Linked DNA regions of Homo sapiens: region 1 is linked to region 2. The links come from fine-mapping of genetic effects on gene expression. A gene starts in region 2. The other region holds a variant in brackets. All regions are shown on one strand. Distances are between the middles of the regions. Region 1 overlaps CDH23 (cadherin related 23). Region 2 holds the start of CDH23 (cadherin related 23).

Region 1 (4,000 bases), 200 kb after region 2:
ATCCCCATTTCACAGATAAGGAAATTGAGGCTCAGAAAGGTAACATAACATGTAGGGTCATGCTAGGCCAAGAAGTGGCAGAGCCAGGATTCGAACCCAGGTCTGCATGAGTCTGAAGTCCTCAGGGACCACCCTCCTCATTGGATGGTCATGACAACCCTGTCATGTGCAGACCCTGCCTCTACTATTTCCATCACACAGATGGGTAAACTGAGGCTCAGGGAGCTCAGGAAACTCAAGGCCATATGGTTGGTAAAGTGATAGATACTGGCTGGCCCCTGATCCAGCCTTTATTCGGTCCACTGTACACAGACCCTTCCCTTCCACGCCAGGACCCCTCTCCCTCCAGTGTGGCAGCATGAGGGGTAACCAGGAGAGGAGCTGAGGGTAGGGTTGCTCTGGACAGACATGAGAAGCAGATGGGAATGGGTCACAAAGTTGTTGGATAGGTCACAAAGGGCCAAGTTGCAGAAAGTGCTGGAAGCCAGGTGGACTTGCCGTGTTGGGCAGGGGGGAGCACGTAGGATCTTACAGGAGGAGTGAAGTGCTGAACTGGCACTCCACAATGCCCCTTGCCCAGCCCGCCCCAGGGCCTGCCTCCCAGCCCCGGTCCCCACCTCCCCGCTGCCCGGCACTCCCTTCCTCCCTCCCAGGTTGGGGACATTGGGCCACTGAGGTCAGGTCTTTGTTTGAAGGACAGATAATTAATCCCACAAAGTAATCCCCAGCACACTCTGGCAGATTTATGGAGGTCGCCTCTGTCCTGGGAACTCTGCCTCATCATCTTTCATTTCCCAGGCAAAGTGACTGACTTGTTATATCATAGGCCCCACGCCAACAGGAATTTCATTTAGGGGAGTTCTCCAGGTGGAAGGAGATTGATAACCCAGGCCTGGGCAGGAACCGATGGCAGTCCTGGGGCCGGGAGGGTGGGGAGCAGAGCAGGCATCGCCACCTCCTCTGTCCCCTAGCTGGTCTCCGTCTTTCTCCCAACATGGGGCTGGTTTCATGGACCTCACCTGTCACAGGCCACAGGGACCCGGATATCATCCAGTTGAGCCTTTCCAAGCCCCAAGATGAGAAAGCAGAGGCCCAGAGCTTGAGAAAGGGACTGTTTCCCACCTGGCTCTTGGGGCTACTCTGCCCCAGCTGTCCTCACCATTACTTCTCCCTCCCCACTCCCCACCTCATCCGCCCTGAAGCTGCCACAGGTACAGGGCTGTCAAGGACAGGGGCAGGGGCTCCTCAGAGCCTGCTGTGGTGGTCCTTGGAACCTACCTCCCAAGGAGGCTCCTTTCAGTGCAGGAGGGCAGTAGGGATTGGCAGGACCTGGCAGCTCATCCACCAAGCAGTGAGGAAGGAGAGGTGTGGCCCTGGGGGTCAGGGTAGTTGCTTCTGGTCTATTGGCTCTGCCTTTAGCTTGCTAGACAGTTTAATGGCTACCATTGTCCACCTTTGCAATACAGGACTTTGGACTTATTTGATAATTCATAAATATTTATCAGGCACCTCTCGTACTCACTGCTGGGGATATGGCCATGAACAGGACAGACAAAACTGTCGCCCTCAGAGCCTCTCTTCTAACAGAGTGTGTACTCTGTTGTATCCATGATCCCGCCCCACCCCCACCCTCAAAGGC[G/A]GGGTAGGCCCAGGCTGTGGGCAACTGGGAAGGGAGGGGAGGGCCTGGCCATAGCACAGAGAGTAGGGGTTGGTGTGGCAATGTGTAGGCAGGCACCAGTACCAGCCTTGCCAACTTGGCAGCTCCACGTCGACAGGGACCAAGCATGGTGGGGCTGGCTCCTTCCTGAGGCTCCACCCGGCCTTTCGTAATTAAAGCCGTAAGTCATCTTCCGACGGGAGCCTGTAGGCTGGGGAGGCCACAGCTGACCTTGCTTGGGGTTTAGTGCTGGGAGGGAGAGTGAGTACATCTGGGCAGAGGTTTGTAGAGGGAGCTGAAGATCAAAGGCTGCCCTCTGTTCTGGCCTAGGCTGGGGACAGTGTTTGGGCTCTGAGGCTCTGCTTGGTGCCAGGAGCAGTGCCAAGAGCTTCCTCCACAAGCAAAGAGGTTACTTCCTCTTTTCTATGAGTGCTGAGTCTCAAGCTTGCAAACACCCCAAGTGACGCCATCTGTCTGTAGCAGGACCCTTTGCTCCGGGCCCTCTCCAGGAGGGCCTATGCCCAGAGTTTGGAGTGGGAGTGCTATAGGGTATCCACTGCTTTGGAGCACTTCCCAGAGAGCCTGCCTTCCCTCCTGCCGACAGACTAGGGGTCTGTAACCCAGAACAGCTGATGGGGAAGGAGGCAGGGCCAGGAACCCATGTAATTGAGAAGGACACCAGGCCACGCATCTGTAGGGTGGCCCAGTGGGAAAGACCCAAAAGTCGCTCCTGTGACTTCTCTTTTTCAAAAAAGCGGCCAGAGGCTTTGGAAAGATTTGGGTTGTGGAGCCTCCTCCCTGGTCGAAAAGGCAAGGACGTCTCTCTTTTTCCTGTTTCTCGCTTGCTCAGCAGAAGTTTCTGCCTGTGTGAGCCAAGGGATGGGAGCGTCTTGGGACATCCCTCCCTATCTGGCTGGGCTCATTCATCAAGCATTCTCTGAACGCCTACTTGGTGTGGGGCACTGGGCCAAGGGCTTGGGACATAATATGACATCTGGGGCTGAGCCTCCAGCTGGGAGGATGAGGGCATTCTGGAGGCAGGCTGCCGGGATGAAATGGCCAACCACCCACCCCACCCCACACTCCACCCCACATCCCAGCCCGGGACCCCTGGCCTTTGTCAGAGAAGCAGGGCCAAGTTCACTGGCAAATGTGAAATATTAAATATTTAGAAAAGTACAGAAACCAACACAGCACACCCCCATGTATTCACCACCCTGATAACATTTGTTGACATTTTGCCATATTTGCTTTGGATCTTTTTTGCTCTTCTTTTTGTTCTTGTTTAAGAAAGGGAACATTGCAGCTATTGTTGAAGGCACCTTTTCTTTGATTTCAATCATCTCAGAGGCCTGTTCTGTGAGCGCTGAGCAGAAAAGGTAAAAACCTCTGATCCTGACGTTGGCTTCAAAAATGGCATCCCTGACTTGAATGTGGACTGTGTCTTAGGTGACATTGAGGAATCATTTATTTTATTTAGGGTGAAAATGGCATGTTTTGTTGCATTTTTGAAAGTCCTTATGAGAGATGCATACAGTATGTAAAGATGAACTGGGATTTCCTCTGTTAACACCGTGAAAAATTGGTAGTGTTGTGGGGGGTGATTTTAAGATAAGATTGGCAAAATTTTGATGATTGTTGCATCTGGGTGATGGTACCGAGAGCTTCATTGTGCTCTTGTCTCTACATTTGTGTTTCTTTGAAATTTTCCATAGTAAAACTTTTATGTGTGGTCCCCAAAGCTTCTCAAAGCAGACCAGAGAGCCACATCTGACCTGTGGCCTGGACAGGAGTCCAGACTTGAGCCAGACTTCTGGTCCACCCATCTGGTGCCAGTTCTGCTTCTAACGTGCTGTGTGTTGTTGACCAAGTTACTTCTCATCTCTGATTCTCACTTCTCCAGGGGATGAAGGAAAAGTTGGAACCTGCTAGGCTTTAAGCATCTTTCCATTTTCCACCTCTGACACTTGACACATCTAACTTGTATGCTCAGAGACTCCACTGGAGGGAAACTGTGGGAATAGTCCCATTTACACCTTCAATGTCTTTCCTTTTTTTTTTTTTTTTTTTTTTTTTTGGTGAGACAGAGTTTCACTCTTGTTGCCCAGGCTGGAGTGCAATGATGCGATCTCGGCTTACTGCAACCTCCGCCTCCCAGGTTCAAGCAAATCTCCTGCCTCAGCCTCCCGAGCAGCTAAAATTACAGATGTGTGCTACTACACCCGGCTAATTTTGTACTTTTAGTAGAGACAGGGTTTTACCATGTTGGCCAGGCTGGTCTCAAACTCCTGACCTCAGTTGATCCACCTGCCTTGGCCTCCCAAAGTGCTGGGATTACAGGCG
Region 2 (4,510 bases):
GAAAGGAGACACAACCAAACAGGCCATGTCTGTGTGCCACTAAAACTTTCTTTACAAAAACATGTGATGAGGCAGATTTGACCTCTGGGTAGCGGTGTGCTCACCCCTGGTCTAGAAAATTTCTTGGCACATAGTATTTGACAAATAAATACTTTTAATTGAAGCAGTCTCTTCTCATCAACTGTTGCCTCCCAATCAATTCTCTCTCTCTCTTATTTTTTTTTAGATAGAGTCTTAGTGATCCTACTGCCTCAGCCTCCCAAAATGCTGCCATTATAGGTGTCAGCCACCAAGCCCGGCCTCTGAAGCTTTCAGTCTTAGGATAAAGATCAACTCCTGATTAAGGCCAACACACCTGCACAGTCTGGCCCCCACTCCATTGTGGCTTTACAGTCACTGCCAAGGACTAGAGGGACCACTCAGTGACTCGGATCAGAGAGGGGGTGCTTAAAGCCAACAGATGGTGCAGGCTCACTCACCCTCCCAAGCTTCCCAGGAGCGTTTCCTCGTACGCTGGAGGCACGGAGCTCTCCCCACCCTTTCTGGACTTCCTGACATATGCCAGCTCCTTCCCACCTTTGCACAAGTTGATTGCGACTGCGGTCACCAAACCATTGTTCCTGGCCCAGCCGTTGCCTGCAGTGGGCACCTGGGGCCTTTGCACATGCTGTTTCTCCTGCCTAAAACTCCACTCTCTCTCCCTTGCTCATCCTTCAGCTCAGTCACCTCCTCTAGGAGGTCTTCCCTGATCCCCTCGGCCAGGCGCCATTAAAGCACTCTTCTTCCTAGCACTGATTCTGGCTGTAATTTTACCTGCTTATGTGTTTCATTGATGAATGTCTGGTTCCCCTACTAGAGAAGCTTCATGGGGCACAAAGACCAAGCCTGTTTTGTTCTCCATCCTATTCCTAGAAACTATTTCAGTTAGCTAGCACATAGCAGTGACTGTGAATGAATGAATGAATAATGAATGAGCGAATGGTAAGGAACTGGAGCTTTGGAACCAGATAGATTCTGGGTTCAATACCCGACTCCACCACAGGGGCAAGTCCCCAACCTCCTAAAGCCTGTTTCTCACTGTAAAACTGGGATAATGGCAGGGCCCACCAGAAAGACTTTATTGAAGATAGAATGAGTTGAGGCCCAGAAAGTCTCAGCCCAGAGCCTGGCTCCAGGCAGGTACTGTCAATGTACTGACTGGAACAGTGACAGCTCGGAAATCCTGTCATGTGAGAAATAGTTTTAAAAAATCAGAATGCTTAGCCCCGGGGAAGTAAAGATCAAAGGTAGGGGATAAACCTCTTCCATTACCTGCATATGGACCCTTTCTTGATCCAGCTGTCTCAGAAAGCCATAAAGTCTCTGTCCCTATAGGTGTGCAAAAAGGAGCCGGGAGACCATGACTCGGGCACTGCAGACGGAGCTCCCGCAGGGGTGAGGGCGCCTAAGTGACCTCACGGGTCTCCTCCAACCCGGGGTCCTCCATTTCTAAGCACTTGGAGGCCTCTTGAGCTCTAGTGAGGGAGGAGGCGCAGATGGGAGCGCACGAGTCGGGTGGGCAAAGGCAGCTGGTTGGAGAGAAGCGTAGGCCAAGAGGCCCCAAGGACTAGAGGGACTGCTCAGCGACTCTGGGAGCAGAGAGGGGGCGCTTAAAGCCAACAGATGGCGCGGGCTCACCTAGGCCGAGCGCCCGCTCGCCCGCCCGGGCTTCCCGGGAGCGTTACCTCGCTCTGCCTGAGGCGCGGGGCGGACGAGACGCTGGGGGCCCCATCCCCCTGCGCGCCCCTCTGCGGGACGGCTGGCGGCCTGGCGGGGCACTGCTCTGTCTCGCACCTGGGGCCTCTTCCGCGGGCTTCCTCCCTGCCCCTTTGGGGGATTCGTAGAGTTGCCACAGCAGCCGGTGCCATGACATCGGCAGAGGGCAGCTTCGCCAGCACTGAAATATTCATGCCCTGAGCGCCCGGCGGGGCTCGGCGCCGCTCCCGGGGGTCCGGGCGGGGCCGGGCGGGAGCTCGGGGGTCCTGGCGGCCTGAGGGGTGGGGGAGCGCCGAGCGCGGGCGGGCGGGCGGGGGCCGGGCGAGGCGGGAGGTGAGGGAGGGAGCTGCGGGAGGCGGGGTCTGGACGGCGGGGGCCGAGCGGGGCGGGGGCCGAGCGGGGCGGGGGAAGCAAGGGAAAGTTGATCGCGGACTTGAGCGGCGGCGGCGGCTCGGGAGAGAGGGACGCGGGCTGCAGGCGCGATGCTTGGCTAGAGGACGCGTCCGACGGCGGCCGGACGCTGAGGTGGTCGGGGCTAGTCAGCCCGGCCTGGGCATGGAGCGCGGGGTGGCAGAGCCTCTGGACGTTTGGGGCGCGCCCAGTCCGAGCCCCCGGCGCGCCTGAAGTTGCGAGCGGCGAGCGGCGAGCGGCGAGCGGCCCGCGGAGACCCAGGAGCTGCCGGCACGCCGCGGATGAGCCTTCGCGCCGGCGGGAAGACGCGGCGGTGGCCAGGGCCAGAGCAGGCGGCCCGCGGGGGCCGATCCGGCGGAGAGCAGAGCCCGAGGCGAGGCGAGGCGCGGCGCCGCTGCACACACGCACACGGTACCCGGAGCCACGCACCGCCTCTTCCCTCCTCGCTTCCCTCTCCTTCCCCTCGCCGTTCGCCCGCCGCGCGGCGGGGAAGTTGGTGGTGACCGCGGCTGCCGAACCACTTGTTCCCAGCGCGGCCATCGCCCGTGGCGGGCGCTCGCGGCATCCTTCGGTCCCAGGCCCCTGGCCCTAGCCTCGCGCCCCGCTCCGAGCTCCCCGACGCGCGGCAACTTTGATTCCTGGGAACTCGAATTCCATTCGCGTTGGCCTTGGGAGGACAGGCATCCCATCCCCCATCCCCGGTCCTGGGACCGCGAACATTTGGGGGCTTTGCTCTCGGCGCTACGGAGAGGGTCCAGGTCTGGGGTGGAGAGATTTTCGAGAGTGGAGCGCGTTGGGATCCAATCCCCTCCCCTTCTGAGCCCTGGGTCCCCATTTGGACAGTGGGGATGGGGTGGGGCGCACCCCTACTGCGGGCTGGGCAGAGGCGCTGAGGGGAACTAAAGGCACGTAGTTCTCCCCTCCCCTCATCAAGTCCCTGTGCCCGCGGGAGACCCCAGGGGACTTACACATCCTCCCAAATTCGGTCCAGCTATGGGAAGACGCGCCCCTCGAGGAGCCGGGAGCCTTTTGCGGCTCTCGCTTCGCCTTCCTGGCCCTGGAACTGGTCCGCTACGAGCGGTGCTGGCTGCCCCCAGGAGCTGGCACCCGGGAGCACTGCCCCTCATCTCCACCGTAGGTCAGCCCAGGACTCGAGCAGAGCCCGCGTGTTCCAAGGCAGTGACGGCGCCAGCCGGCGGGGACTCTGCCTGGCTTTCTCGGAGCGGGCACCTAGAGAGGCTGCCTCCGTGCTGTGAGCGGAGATCCGATGCCAGCCGCCGCCCCACTGCGACCCCAGCCCCAGCCCTAGTGCTGTCAGCGGTCCACTGGGAGGAAATTAGCCTTTCCTCGGTAGTAATACTCCCCCATCCTCCCTAGTAATTCAGAAAGCAGAGCCTTCTTTTTCTACGTCCTTTGCCCTCTCAGACCAGAGCTGGCATTGACATTGACCTCGCCTTCCAGCCCCTTGGGAAGTGCCCCAACCCTAATTTGGATTTTGAAATAAGCTAGAGAGACACAGGAGTGTGTGTGTGTGTGTGTGTGTGTGTGTGTGTGTGTGTGTGTGTGTGTTGGGTGGAGTCAGACCCTCACACAGGGAAGAATTAGGTTGTGGGGTGTGGGGTGGGGCGGGCTTTAAGAACCTAGTTGGGGCCAGTTGCATGGTGATGATGAGTCAGCCCACGATGGGGAGAGCTGGCTTGGAGTTAGTGCTTGGTTCGTGGTGCAGGGGTAGGCGCACTGCGGTCAGCACCTACAGGGGTGGGGGCACTAGATGTTACTCTGCCAAGGAGGAGCTGGGAAGGGGCCCCTTGCCTGGGGGAATAGCAAGGCTTGGTTCTGGCTGCCAGGGCTGGGGAGGGCAGGAAGGCAGAGTGTCTCGTGGTAGAGGGTGGGTGTCCCCCGTGAGTTGGGAAGGTGGCACACAGAAGCCACTGGTGTGAACCAGGAAGCTCTGCCTCGAGTGCTGGAGGACAGCAGTGAGGGGTGGGAGGCCCAGAGCTAGCATCCTGGCCCCGTCTGTGCTGGGTCCGCATATACTTCTCAGACTTGGCCTTCCTCACCTCTAAACAGCTGGGCTCCTCACGTCTGCTTACCAAAGGGCTTGATTTGAGGGTTGTGATAGCAGATGGTCCTGGTTGCCTCTGGAATAGCTCCCCCACTCAACAAGCTACCTTACCTGCAGTTTCACCATTTGAGGTTCATTTATTTGAGCCAAGTATTTTAAAGGGCACCTTCCTGAAGTGCTCATTTAAAATGCACATTCTTCTGGGAGGTGAAGGTGTAGCGGAACCTTGCTCCTCAGAGTGTGGCCTGTGGACATGCAGCGTCGGCATCACCTGGGGAC

What was found. PIP is the estimated chance that this variant, and not a neighbour inherited with it, causes the effect.
Region 1: its variant is fine-mapped to the expression of CDH23 in caudate (GTEx, PIP 0.90).

Annotation. Positions count from the first base shown.
Region 1 is chr10:71,596,283-71,600,282 of GRCh38, forward strand. The region is part of intron 9 of CDH23 (cadherin related 23); the gene reads left to right. Among named protein-coding and RNA genes, the nearest start is that of CDH23-AS1, 86 kb to the left of the region's middle. The variant G/A (reference allele first, on the strand shown) is at 1,640.
Region 2 is chr10:71,394,742-71,399,251 of GRCh38, forward strand. CDH23 (cadherin related 23) reads left to right here and starts at 2,179. Exons shown (of 70, transcript NM_022124.6): 1 at 2,179-2,577. RefSeq lists a silencer at 1,698-1,787 and an enhancer at 2,471-2,982.